Linked DNA regions of Homo sapiens. The protein of the gene in region 1 interacts with the protein of each later gene in a biochemical or structural test. Each region holds a gene or a part of one and is shown in the gene's direction. Other genes may lie near its edges.

Region 1 (7,026 bases):
TATGCCTCACAGATAAAATATATTTATTACATTCTGTATACATATTATCCAAACATTGGGCTCACCCCAGTATTTAATGTGGCCTTCTCCAGCATCCCTGCTGGCTTGTTCTGCCCAAGCACCTCTCTTCCTCTGCCCAAGTGCCTGTTGCCTAAGAGTTTTGTGTTGGTTAAGCAGTAGGTATGGCTGCCCTTGCTCCTGGCAGAAACCACACTTAACCTCATTGCTGGTGCAGAGTAAATAAGGCCCAGGTATTTCTGAGTCATTTACACAGAAACTCAGAGTGCCTTGAGGGTTATTTGTACCAGGGCAGTCCAGTTCACATCAATGTCTTTCTGCTGCTTCTGAAAATATTGTATTCATATTTGAAGCTTAAGAAAACATAGGCTTGCTCACATGTAGTCCTGGCCAGGAGCTCCCATAAGCCAGTGACAGTTTAATGAAAACAGCAAATGGGAAACATACCCTGACATCCTGAGGCTGAAATTTACTACAGTAAAAATTGACTTTATTTTCCAAACTTCCTTCTGAAGAAAATTTATTTTAAAACTGTTTCTGCCATGTGAGAGAAAAGGGGACAAATATGCTACATTACTAACAAATGTAGAATATGATTTCAGAAGAATTTGACAAATAAGCCCACTTGTTTTCATTAATATTCTGAAAGCTAGTCACCTTTCCAAGCAATGTGAAGTCTTTCAGGCCATTGGTATTGGATAACATGAAAAGTGATATGTTGACTCTTCAAATTAATCCTTTTTAATACAGATCATGCCTTAAACTTCAGTGATTCTATGGGAAATAAGAATTTTATGCAATCATGCAAAACATAAGAAAATAGATTTTCATGATAGTCTTGAGTATTCATGACCCTGCACACCTTGTCAATCCTTTTGGTTAAGGAAGGGAGAATTTTTTGGTGGGCTATGTGAACTTGAATTTATACTAAATAAGCAAAGCAAATCACAAACACTTTTCAATGAGGATATTTAGAGCAACATTACCTTTTTCCCTAGGCCATCTTTAGGGTCGTTTAAGGCCGGGTACAATGGCTCACACCTGTGATGCCAACACTTCAGGAGGCCAAGGCAGGAGGATTGCTTGGACTTTGGAGTTCAAGACCAACCTGGGAAACTTAGTGAGACCCAGTCTCTACAAAAAATAAAAAATTTAGCCAGGCACAGTGATGTGCACCTGTAGTCCCAGCTACTCGGCAAGCTGAGGTGGGAGGATCACTTGAGCCCAGAAGGTTGAGGCTGCAGTGAGCTGTGATTGTACCACTGCACTCCAGCATGGGACACAGAGTGAGACCCTGTCTCTAAAAATTAATAATAATAATTTAAGTTAGATAGTTTTGTGTACTGTATGTACTTTGGACCAGATTACAGCATTGTTTGGTCACACCTATAGCCAAAAAATAAAAATAAAAAACAAAATCAGCTGGGCACAGTGGCTCATGCCTGTAGTCCCACCACTTTGGGAGACCAAGGTGGGTGCATCACTTGAGGTCAAGAGTTCAAGAGTTCAAGACCAGCCTGGCCAACATGGCTAAATCTCGCTTCTACTAATAATACAAAAGTTAGCCAGGCATGGTGGCGTGTGCCTATAATCCCATTTATGTGGGAGGCTGAGGTACAAGAATCACTTGAACCCGGGAGGTAGAGGTTACAGTGAGCCAAGATCATGCCACTGCACTCCAGCCTAGGCAACAGAGTGAAACTGTGTCTCAAAAACGAAAACAAATCAATTTCTCTGAAAATCAAATAGTATAATTCAGACTTTGGGCATGATCCAATAAGTCAGGTAATTTATAAAATATATATATATATAAAACTTTTTTATATTTCAGAAAGCCATGTCCTATGTTGATTATCTGTTTTCCTTAAAAAAAAAAAAAACTGGATTGCTTCAGACATTTGAAAAGAGTAGATTTTTCATTTGACTAGACTCATGCACAGATTTGGGTCACTTGGCTATTACAGCCAGCCAGATAGATTTGCATCTAGATGCATTGCAGCGTTTTAATATAATTGGCCTTACTTTTTTTTTTTTAATACTGAAGCTAATTATGCCTTAGAACAAGTACATTGGCTTTCGTACTTAAATCTAACTAGACTTAGTAATATGATTAGTTTTAAGGGTAGACTCAGAACAATTAACCAGTGGTACAAAAATATGCATATCAGTCAAAACAGATGAGTTGTGGGGTTTTTTTAAAAGAAGCATGTCCACAAAGTATTAGTTTATACTTCGTTGATAGAAATATTTCAGTGTAATTTGCTTTCCATGTGATGTTGCTTTGCACATATATTTCAGTTGTTTTCTAAATGTGCTTTTAGCTTCTATGGCTAACATTAAAGTTCTTTAGAACAAAACAACAATCAAAAACAACATAAAATAATCATCGTAGTTATATAAACAGCTAAATATTATATTGACTAGAAGAAGCAAATTAAGAGAGCCATCTCAGACGTTTCTACCAACTGGTTGTATGCAAAACTCAACCCATCTCTGTCTATATTTAGAAAATGTCTTAAATTAGACAGGACTATGAAAATTTAAAATGTTTTATTTTGTAATGTAGACCAACATATCTGAAAATATACTATATCTTTCTAATGTAAGAACTAATTCATAACAATAACCGGGATCTATTTATTATTTTTCCTTTAAGCGGAAGTACAAAGTGAAATTGAAAGAATCTTTGAGTTGGCAAGATCTTTGCAACTGGTTGTTCTTGATGCAGACACCATCAATCACCCAGCACAACTTATAAAGACTTCCTTAGCACCAATTATTGTTCATGTAAAAGTCTCATCTCCAAAGGTAATTAGCTCCTTTCTGCCTTAAGGTTTAGAAGTGCATCTTTTAAAAATGTGTTTTGCTCTGTGGTTTTTTGTTAGTGGACAAAGGAGAACGTCTTGCTGATTATTAATAAGCACATTTAAAATCTTTCCACAGTGTACAGATTCTATGAATTTTCAGATAGTGAAGAATATAATAGTTCATTTCTTCTAAAAGCTACTATTGTAGATCCCAAACAAGACAGTTATGCAAGTGTATAATAGAAACAAAACATTAAGACAGATGTGGAAAAGTAGACTCTGGCTTATCATAGACTATGAATTCTATATTGGTAAATTTCTTGGATCCTGTTGATTCCTGTGTCATCCATACTCTGTACCTAGTTGAGAGAGTACATCTATATTGATCAAAAAAGGCATCTATGTTGATCATATATAAAATAGAATATCACTGTTTAAACATCTCCTATGGAAGCATTATAGACCCTGACATTTGTGCTTAGGTTGAGTTCTTGAAAGAATGTGGTTATTCCACGATAAGCACAATGGGAAATTTGCTTTGTATCTTTATGCCATTGTGGGAGGTAAAAATAAAAGTGAAATAGCCCCAAATTGGTTTCTTTTGATTTGGGTGTTCTTTCATTTTTAAAAAAGGATGTTGTTCTTAAAAAGTTAACGTGAAATGGTTACCCTTGGGAAGTACTATCTTAATAATCAGTTTCTTCTCTGTGCCTCCTAGTGTATTTTGGTGCCTAAATACAAATTCAACTGCCAACCAGCATGGCAGTCTTCTCTCATGGGTGGAGAATGTCTAAAGAAGCTGTACTCTCCTCCAGATGTTCTGAGATCCTAGCCTTCCATCTATCTCTGCAGACACTGCTTTGGTGCAGTGGACTTGGGAATCCTGAACAAACTAGGGCCTTTTGAGAATCAGTAGAATGGATTGAAAGAGCTGCTGGGGGTTCAAGCACTTCACTGCAGTGCAGGAGAGTTCAGCCCTTCCCACTGCCCATGACACTGTGGTGTCCTTAAGTGCAAGAACAGGAGTTCCCAGACACCTATGTCCTGGGGTATTATAGAGCTCATAGATTAGCATTGTTTGCAGGGGAAGGGCCACGGGACATGGCAGTATATGACCAAATGCAGTTACAGCAGTGGCCAAAAGACATAGATATATCACTGGTTTACATGTAGCAATATACTAATACAAATGTTTTGCCTGGGTCTCCAATCACAGAATAGTCTGATTAATTTAAAATTAAACTGAAATGTCCCATTAATAATCGGTGACAAAAATAACCAGAAAATGACTCTGACATTTATCTGACATGGAGATAGTGAGCTAAAACATTATTCAGGTGAATAATATTAAAGTATTACTTAACATAAATGACCTGGTACAGTCCACTCCCTCCATTTTTACAGGTCTCTCTTTGAAATCTCTGGGAAAAATCTAGGATGGGAACTCAGGCTCCTCCTGAGACTTCACACAGAGTTAGAATAGGATGAACATATCAAATCCATGGAACTGAGAGCCAATGTAAGCAGATGACATCATTACAGGTTTAAATATATGATTTCTCACACTGCATTTCCTCTCTGATAATACTCAGGGCCAAGCAGACCATTAAAAAGATCCTGGCTTATTTGATTTTCTTTCAACTCATCTACAATACCTCAGGTTCATGTCTTCTTCTATCAGGTTTTACAGCGGTTGATTAAATCTAGAGGAAAGTCACAAAGTAAACACTTGAATGTTCAACTGGTGGCAGCTGATAAACTTGCACAATGCCCCCCAGTAAGTATGATCATTTTTTGTCTTCATCATTCTTGACTAGTTAGAAGAGGGTGGGTTTTTTTTTCTTCATATTGTTGTTTTCATTCTAAAATGATGGTGATGATGGTATGTTGTCATCTAAAAGATTTCTTGGAACAAACTGCTGCTGTTATGTTGCTTGTATTCAGGCATCCAGATGTGGATGGTGTTTGCCTTGTAATAAGAAATGAACTTAGTGTCCGGGGTCTGTTCTTCTCACTGCTACCTTGTTTGCTTTGCAAACATGCAGCAAACCACTTAGCATTCAGCCTCCAGTCACATGGATACGCTTAAGAAAAGAACAAAAGAAAACATACCAATTTGATCTTCCTTTAACTCTTCTGCAAGAAAATTCCAGCAGGCATAAAAGATTATGACACTGAAGGTCAAGAATTGATTGGAACTAGAGAGGCCCTGTGGTTATAGTAGATGAAAGAGTCAGGGCTGAGTCAGATGAAAAACGAAATTATAGCAACTCTTCTTCTAGTGCCATTGCCAGAAAACAGCTGCTGGGTTAGAAGGTGAGCAATGGTGGGATGGGGTGGGAGATGGAACTGCTATCACATGGCACTGGGTCCCCAGTGGCCAGTCTCTCCACTTTTCCCACTGACTTACTATTTCTGTGCCTATGTTTCTGTAAAGGAAATAACTGTCCTTCTTACTCAATGGATTCACTAGATTGTTTTATACACTTGTGTAGGATTGTTTAAGCTCTATGGAAGCATGAAATCTGATTCAAATGTTTAGAGAGGGCAACACAGCATAACCTGTAAAAGCACAGACTCTGGAGCCAGATATTTGGGTTTTGAATCCACACTGACTAGTTATGTAATCTTGGGCAAGTACCTATCTCATGGGATTGGTGTAAGGATTGAGTGAGTGAATATGTGGTAAAGCTGTTAGAACAGCGCCAGGAACATAAGAAGCACCGTCTAAGTTTTCTTATTATAATTACTGGATACACTTTGTGTGACGTCATGTCTGGTCCAGTAGACTCTGTAAGAACCCGTGCCCCTCTGGCTCACTGTTGTATGTCAGTTCCCTATCATAGTAGACCCATAATATATATTTGTGGAATGAGTGAATAAATGAAAGGATGTTCAGACGATAAGAGTAATAATGCATCCTTTCATTAGATGCTTACAGTTGGCCACACAGTGTGCTAGATGCTTTACATAGATTATCTCTAATCTTCACAGTTACCTGGTGAGATAGGCCATATTATCTCCATTTTATAGTTTAGGCAACTGAAAACAGAGACATTAAACGATTTCCCTAAGGTGACATAGCAAATTAGGATTCAATCTATTCTAGATCTATCTGGCTCCAAAGACAATTTCCTACCCCCTAACCCATCCACCCATACACACATGTACCTGGTTACCTACCCTGAAGATAATTTGATAGCTTGGAGCATGGCGTGCTCTGTTAAGTTTCACTTCACGCTGCCTGTTAGTGAAGCCCAATTACACAGTGGAATGTATGATTAAGGCACTGAACAGACAGAGGAATGTATTGCCCAGCCCTGACCTTCTAATGTTTCACAGTTGAAGGAAGATAATCTTTGTTGTCTAGCTATCAAAAGCCGGGAACTATGTTATTATTTCCAATTTTTGGAACAATCTTATAAGGATAGTTATATCAGTTTGGTCTTCTGGGAAGCAGACACCTAAATGGAATTACAAATGCAAGAGATTTATTGGAGAAATTTTATCTTTATGAAAATAAGTTTATTAACATTTATTCTAATAATTACTAGAGAAAATTCTTGTGTCCTATTAAATTTGAGGGATTTTAGCTGCTGAGAGGGTTGATCATTGAGTAGTTGTACATATAATATGGTTTGTTACATCTGAAATAGCTGGAATCAAGAAAAGATATTTGCATCTGTAAAAGCAACTAATATACTGAGCTACCTTAGGACTTGTACCCAGGTCAGAGATTTCAAACAGCTCCATGACTGGAAAGACAGCCTTGCCTTACCATTATCTCAGTAGGATAAACACTTTATCTTTTTATATAATTGGTAAGATAACCTGGAATTTTAAACAGGCAGTCTGGATGGATAAGGTTACCTTGTACTTAGCATTTTCTAAACACTGTTTACTTTATTAAACATGTTCAATTGATACTGCACAGATGTAGTAATGCTGAGGAGGAATAGTATCCTCTATTTTGGCATGTGTGAAGAAATCTTTGGATTATAAAAACCAGTAGTAACCTTAAAATGTGTCTGCATTTGCCCCTGCTTTACTTCAAGACCATAATTATAATTGTCATCCAAAGATTGGTGATCACTGTGTCATTTTAATTCCTTTAGGAGAATTTGCGACTTACTTAATTGGCCACCATATCTCCAGTATGAAAAGTCAGCAAATTACATTGGCAGAGTATCACATTGCTAAG
Region 2 (6,898 bases), on another chromosome or scaffold:
GGCCATGTTAATAGAAATGACCAAAAAGTTTTTCTTTTTATGTGTTTGTTGTCGTTGTTTGTTTTTTGAGACTTGACTGTCTCCCACACTGGAGTGCATGATCTTGGCTCATTGCAGCCTCAAACTCCTGGGCTCACACAATCCTCCCACTTTGGCCTCCCCAGTAGCTGGGACTATAGGCATGCACCACCATGCTCAACTAATTTATTTATTTCCTGACCTTTTCTTTTCTTTTTTCTTTTCTTTCTTTCTCTTTCTTTTCTTTCTCTCTTTCTTCTCTTTTCTTTCTCTCTTTCTTTCCCTCCCCCCTCCCTCCCTCCCTCCCTCCCTCCCTTCCTTCCTTCCTTCCTTTTGTAGAGGCAGGGTCTCACTATGTTGCCCAGGCTGCTCTTGAACTCCTGGGCTCAAGCAGTCCTCCTGCCTCTGCCCACCAAAATACTAGGATTACAGATGTGAGCCACTGCACCCAGCCAACGGTTTTCCAAAGTGGTTGTACCAAATTCCCCTCTGTCCAACAGAATACAAGAGTCAGAAATGGGTTCAGATCCACGTTAGTGACCTTGGGAAAGTTTTTAAGTCTCCCTCACCCTCAGTGTTTGCATCTGTTCCACGGGGCTGCTGTGAAGACTCAGTGGGAGATTTACCCTGGCAGGAGCTCCATCAGTGAGATGTCACTCTTTCCTGAAAAACTCTGGGGTCTTCACAGATCTATGCAGGTAATGCTCCTGCTCTAAAACTGAATAATCTTCTCAGAGAGGTCCATCAGAACAAATGATAAGTTCAACTCAGCTCCTCTCATATGACTGGTTCTTCCCATCTGAACACATGGGCTCGCTTCTTGTTTCATATTAGTTGCTGTTCACCTTTTATATCTGAAACAATGTCAAGTACAAAAATCACTGATATTTGGTGAGCGCCTTAAAAGCCCCTCCTTCTCCCTGAATCCCACACAATTCTATCTCCTTGCAATTCCAATCACTCTTGGTTTAATCATTTCATCCATATCGTGACAAGTTAGAAAATCTTGAAAGTGCTATGGGGCAATGTATAATAGTTGGTGCATTGGCACAGAACGGGGACTTTATATAAAGACATATCATCTTTCCAGAGTGTTCCAAAAGAACTCGAATATTGATATGTGTGTGTGGGGTGGCGAGGGGGGAAGGGAATTAACTAGGATTTAACTAGCTAAGGCTTGAAAGAATATTTGCCTTTTTCATCCTTTTCCCATTCCTCTCCATTTGGCCTTTCTGCGTATACAAGCTCCATGAAAATTCAATGGTTTCTTGGTACATTGAATTTGCAAGACAGTTTGATGACATCTTATAAGCTTGAAGATATGAATACCTTGTGGACCCAGACATTCCACACCTAAGGCTATTCCTAGAGACATGCATTCTTATCTGCACCAAAGGTACCTGAGGCAGTAATGTTTAATAGCCCCAACTGGAAAAAAAACAGATACCCATCAACAAGATGATGGATAAACAAATTGTGGCATATTCTCTTGATGAAATACTATACAGCAGTGAAAGTGAATGAATCACAGCCATGTGTGACAACAAACAGGTGAATTTTTCTAAAATTCGAAACAGATTAGGATGTATGAATCTTGTTTTTTTTGTTTGTTTGTTTTTGTTTTGTTTTGTTTTGTTTGACAGAGTCTCACTTTGTTGCCCAGGCTGGAGGGCAGTGGTTTGATCTTGGCTCACTGCAACATCCTGGACTCAAGGGATCTTCCCATCTCAGCCTCCTAAGTAGCTGGGACTAGGTTCACATCACCATGCCTGGTTAATTTTTATTTTAAAAAAGGTTTTTGGAGAGACAGGGTCTTGCTATATTGCCCAGGCTTGTCTCAAACCCCTGGCCTCAAGCAATCCTCATGCTCTGCCTCCCAAAGTGCTGGGATTACAGGCGCAGACACCGTGCCCTGCCAGATGAATCTTAAAGACATAATGTTGAACCGAAGAAACAAGAAACTGTAGAATATATACTATATGATTATTCCATTTATATAAAAGCCCAAAAGAAGCAAAGTAAAATTGTATTGGTTAGGAACGCATAATAAGGTAGTCAAACTTTTTTTAAAAAAGCAAGATATGAATACCATAAAGTCAGGTAGCGATTATTGCTGGAATAAGGGGCTGTGTAAGCGTGTTGGCAAAGGGGGTTCTGCAGAGGTGGTGATGTTCCATTTCTAGCCCTAGACTTGATTTCATGAGTGTTCATTTCAGACCAATTTCTTAACTCCGTACCTTTATGTTTTATGCATTTTTCTTTGTGCTTATTGAATTTCACCACACAAAAAGCAGAATGGGAAGTAATCAAAGTGGTTCTGGAGAGACGTGAGTATCAAGCAAACTATACCACCCAGAACCCCTATCCAGCCAACTAGGACCTGGTTAATTATTTCCTCCTGGGAGTTCAGACTTGTCACCTCTGGGGTCTCCAAGGTAGAATAAACCTTTAATTCCAACTTGCAGGAGTCCTTGTGATTTGAAACGTTCACAGAAGTAACCCCAAACCACTCTCTCCACTTTCAAAAATGGTCTTTTGCTAAACAGAGCAAATTTGTTTAGAGACTGACGAATCGCACCTCTAGACACAAATCCCCTTCTCTTTTCTGTCTTTTAAGTTTTTTTCCTGCCTCCATCCTGCCTTCTCCTTGCAAGATGCTGGGGAGCGTCCGGCTGTCTGCAACCGAAATGGAACGGGGTGGAAAACAGGCTTTCCTCCCAGGGGAGGAGGAAGCACCCCAATTCCCCCCTCCCTGCCTCCCAACCATGCGACGCTCCCCTCTCTCCCCCACAAACTCCGCTGAGCCCGGTACCCCCGCGCCTCCACGAGCCTCCACGATTGGTCGCGGGCCCTCATGTGTCGACACTCTGGGTGGGTCCTTCTACTGTTAAACTCATCAATTGCTCCCCTTTTCCGTTTGCTGGCCAGTGGTTCAGACCTTTGCGCCCATTTTTTTTTCCTCTTTACCTTCTTCTACCCGCAACCCTCCACACCAGTCTTATTTTAGCAAAACCTAGAGAAGGAGGAGGTGGAGGGATTTGGAGGGTGGAGAGGCATTGCCGCATCCAGGGGCAGCTATTGAGTGGCTAAGCGGAGGGCGCATACCTCTCTCTCTCTCTCTTTTCCCCCTGTTGGGAATTTTCAGGATTTCACTGCTGCAATTTAACCCCAAGATGAGGCACCATTGAGCGAAACGCTGTGCGCACATACACACTCACACTTCCTCCGGGAGCAGAAGAGGCAGCCGTTGGTGATTCAGGAAGAAAAAAAATTTTTTTTTTTTTTTTTAAACCTGGACCCTGCGGTGTGAAGACTCCTTAGGAACCCTCTGGAGCGTCTTACTCCCCTTCCCTCCTCTTTCCCTTCCCTTTCATCTTCTTTGTTTTTATTTTATTTTATTTTTGGAGCTACAGATCTTTCAGCATTTTTAAGGTCTAGGAACTCCAGCAAAACAGAAGGGCACTTAATTTTTTTTTTTTTTTTTTTTGCCCTCCCCACCCAGACCTGGGTTTCGTCTTTCTTTATTTTTAAATATATATATATTTTTTTATTTTTTATTTTTTATTTTTTTTTAATGGGCCGAGCGCACTCCTTTTGCAAGATGCCAGCCTGACCCGGACCTCGGAGGAATTTGAAGCTTCCACTGCGTCCCGGGGGGGGCGTCCTTTGCAAACCGTTCGCGTCTTAAAGGGGGTGTGCGTTGGGTGGATTTTTTTTTTTTAACTGTCTCTTTTTTTTTTTTTCCGGAGTGGGTGGACTGGGGATTGCCTGGATTCCTTCCTCGGTTATTTTTTGCCTCGCTTCTCTCTCCCCTCCCCCCTCCTCCCCGGGCCCCCGCGCCCCGCCCCCGCACCCTCCTCCCGCCCCTCCTTCTCCGGGGTCAGCCAGGAAGATGTCCCGAGCTGCTATCCCCGGCTCGGCCCGGGCAGCCGCCTTCTGAGCCCCCGACCCGAGGCGCCGAGCCGCCGCCGCCCGATGGGCTGGGCCGTGGAGCGTCTCCGCAGTCGTAGCTCCAGCCGCCGCGCTCCCAGCCCCGGCAGCCTCAGCATCAGCGGCGGCGGCGGCGGCGGCGGCGTCTTCCGCATCGTTCGCCGCAGCGTAACCCGGAGCCCTTTGCTCTTTGCAGAATGGCCCGCTTCGGAGACGAGATGCCGGCCCGCTACGGGGGAGGAGGCTCCGGGGCAGCCGCCGGGGTGGTCGTGGGCAGCGGAGGCGGGCGAGGAGCCGGGGGCAGCCGGCAGGGCGGGCAGCCCGGGGCGCAAAGGATGTACAAGCAGTCAATGGCGCAGAGAGCGCGGACCATGGCACTCTACAACCCCATCCCCGTCCGACAGAACTGCCTCACGGTTAACCGGTCTCTCTTCCTCTTCAGCGAAGACAACGTGGTGAGAAAATACGCCAAAAAGATCACCGAATGGCCATATCCTTTTGCCCGAACCCCAGCAGCAGCTGCGCCTCCCCCTCCTCCCTCCGCCTCCCCTCTTCCAGGCTGGGAGAGAGACCCGGGGGTTGATGGGAGGTGGGGAGGAGGGGGGTCTTCCAGGGGCTGGGAGAGGGGGCACCGGGAGGAGTGTGAAAGAATCTCTCCACCCCGAGCTGGGTTGAGCTACCCTGGAGGCTTGGGAATGGGTTTGTGGGGGGCTGGGGGGTGGGCAGCGGAGAGTGGATCCTTCCCAAGGACCGACTCTAGAATGAGATCTGGGGCCTGGGGTCGTGCAGGAGCCTTGGTGGGGGCTTTCGAGCCAAGTCCGGAGGGTTTGGAGTTCTACGGAGTGAGCTTGGAGCGGGCTCGGGCCTGGGCGCTTCTGGCCAGGGCAGGGGAACTATGGGGGCCTTGGTTGGGTTTTCTTGGCCGTCGCTCACTGGAGTCCACGCAGGGGAAGCTGGACAGCCTCTCCACTACTGCTTTCCCCAAGGTGGGGGGCCGCCGCACTTTTAGGGCAGGGCGCTTGGGGGCTCCCAGGGCTAAGAGCAAGAGGGAGTCCATGTGGCCTTCACACTGAGAAGCCAGCACTGGCCGAAGTGAGTACCCCAGGGTGGGCCGCTGTTCCTATCTGGAGAGGATAGTGATGGGCTGGGGGGCGCTTATGTTTCCCTCATGTGTGCAGGTCCCATTGCCTTTAACCGCTGATTGGGGAACCTCATCATCTTTGGGGGTGTCGAGAAAGAGATCCCACTTGCTTTATCTGGGCCCCTGGCCTGGGAAGACCTGATCTGGACACTTTCAGTAAGAAAGACAGGGCAACAGCAAATGAGGTGGTGGGTCCATTTTAGAGCACCATGTCCAGCTTTTCCTACCCCGAGTAGCCGAGAGGGAACACCAGGAGAATCAGCACCCATGTGGACATCTTAGGTAGGTAAATGCCTTTTAAATTTTTTTTTTTTTAATCAAAGATCCAGAGGAAAAAGGTGAAGCCCACATTTTCTTCTGTGGAGATGCTATCAAAATGCAGATCTTCTGTGTTTCTTTAAATCCCTGCCTGCTTGAAATAAACCTTGAGGAGGGCTTAACATCTATCGAGATGTAGGCAGGCAAGGGTGGGTAATTAGTCGGGCTTTCTAGCAGTTATCTAAGCATGACCCAGATTCCAGGAGGGGGGACACACCCTGCTGCCCAGGCTGGCTGGCCACTGTGCCATGCCCAGATGTGCCGCTTCTCCGCACAGTTCCAACCAGCTGCCCTCTGTGTAAAAATGAACGGGCTGGATGGGTCCCTGGGGCTCAGCGATGAGTCCCCTATCCCTTTTGTATGTGGTTTTGCAGTTATAGACTAAACGGGGCTGGGCCCTGTGTGGTCTCCGGGGGTTGCTGTTTGAGGAGCATGGCGGGTGGTAGAGGGACTCACTTCAGGGGGGTTCAAAATCGAGCCTGGCGCTTGGATCCTGGGTGCTGGGATTGCAACAGAGGGCACTGAGGTTTTGGAGTGTGTGAGTGGTCTACTTTGAGGGTGGGGAAAATTAAGAAGTTCAGCAGAGGTGCTTTTGAGGGGAGCATACCTCTAACTACGATGCCATCTCCGTTGGTGCCCAAAGCAGGTGCCAGGTCTTTGCTTCCTAAGTTTCAGACTCTTAAAGAGGCTGGTTCTTAAGGTTAGCAATTCCTCACCATCCCAGGCCCATTGAAGTGCTCAGGGGTGGCTTGATTACTCTGCCTATCAACAGAGTGAGGAGTGGGAGTGCCTTGCAGGAGGACAGGGTATTCATGGGTGCACACCCAGTTAGCTCCAGGAGTGAGAGGGCTTTGCTCGGCTGACAGGTTTCCTCATTGAAAATGGCTTTAGATCGCCTTCTGGAGCCTGGATTTGGAGACTTCTAAGAGGAAAGGAAGGAGGTGGGGAGCCCTTCTGCTGTGTCCTTAGCTTACCTCTGTCCAGCCTGAATCCTGCAGATTGGAGGGCTGTTGGGGGAGAGGGGGATTGCAGTGGCCCCTCGGAAGGGGGAATCGTGGGAGAGGGAGGCAGGTGAATTGCGAGTGTTGCTTGCCACTTCATCTATTCTCTGGCCAGCTCGCCCGGGGCTTTCTTGCTCTTATGATGAGTTTGTGCATTATGCTCTCTGCAGACTGTTTTTGTTCTCTTTGACCCGAGGTAACAAACACATTATACAGCCCTACTCTGGAAGGGAAAACTCCCCACCTCACAATCTGTCATCGAGCTGGGTCATCCAGGACTGAGCTTTCTCTGTCCTGGATGGAGCGGAGGGCGGTGGCGGGGTGGGTGGGAGGGTTGGAGATGAGAGGGGATGGACAGAGACCTGGGGAGGGAGGTAGTGAATAAAAGAATTCAGGCCAGTGTAAAGAGAAAGACACGTGGAATGTCAGAGTCACGATACCAGGGCAGAACATTCTACTTTTTAATCTAAATATTTCTGCCATTAAAAAA

Evidence for each region. The genes of interacting proteins can lie anywhere in the genome.
Region 2: the proteins of CACNB4 (region 1) and CACNA1A form a complex in vitro, tested with the Homo sapiens proteins (2 studies listed by BioGRID).

Annotation. Positions count from the first base shown.
Region 1 is NC_000002.12:151,851,024-151,858,049, reverse strand, and holds part of CACNB4 (voltage-dependent L-type calcium channel subunit beta-4), read left to right. Parts: intron 1-2,674; coding exon 2,675-2,826; intron 2,827-4,506; coding exon 4,507-4,602; intron 4,603-7,026. UniProt on the Homo sapiens protein: The beta subunit of voltage-dependent calcium channels contributes to the function of the calcium channel by increasing peak calcium current, shifting the voltage dependencies of activation and inactivation, modulating G protein inhibition and controlling the alpha-1 subunit membrane targeting.
Region 2 is NC_000019.10:13,503,472-13,510,369, reverse strand, and holds the start of CACNA1A (voltage-dependent P/Q-type calcium channel subunit alpha-1A), read left to right. Parts: upstream 1-3,890; 5' UTR 3,891-4,145; coding exon 4,146-4,438; intron 4,439-6,898.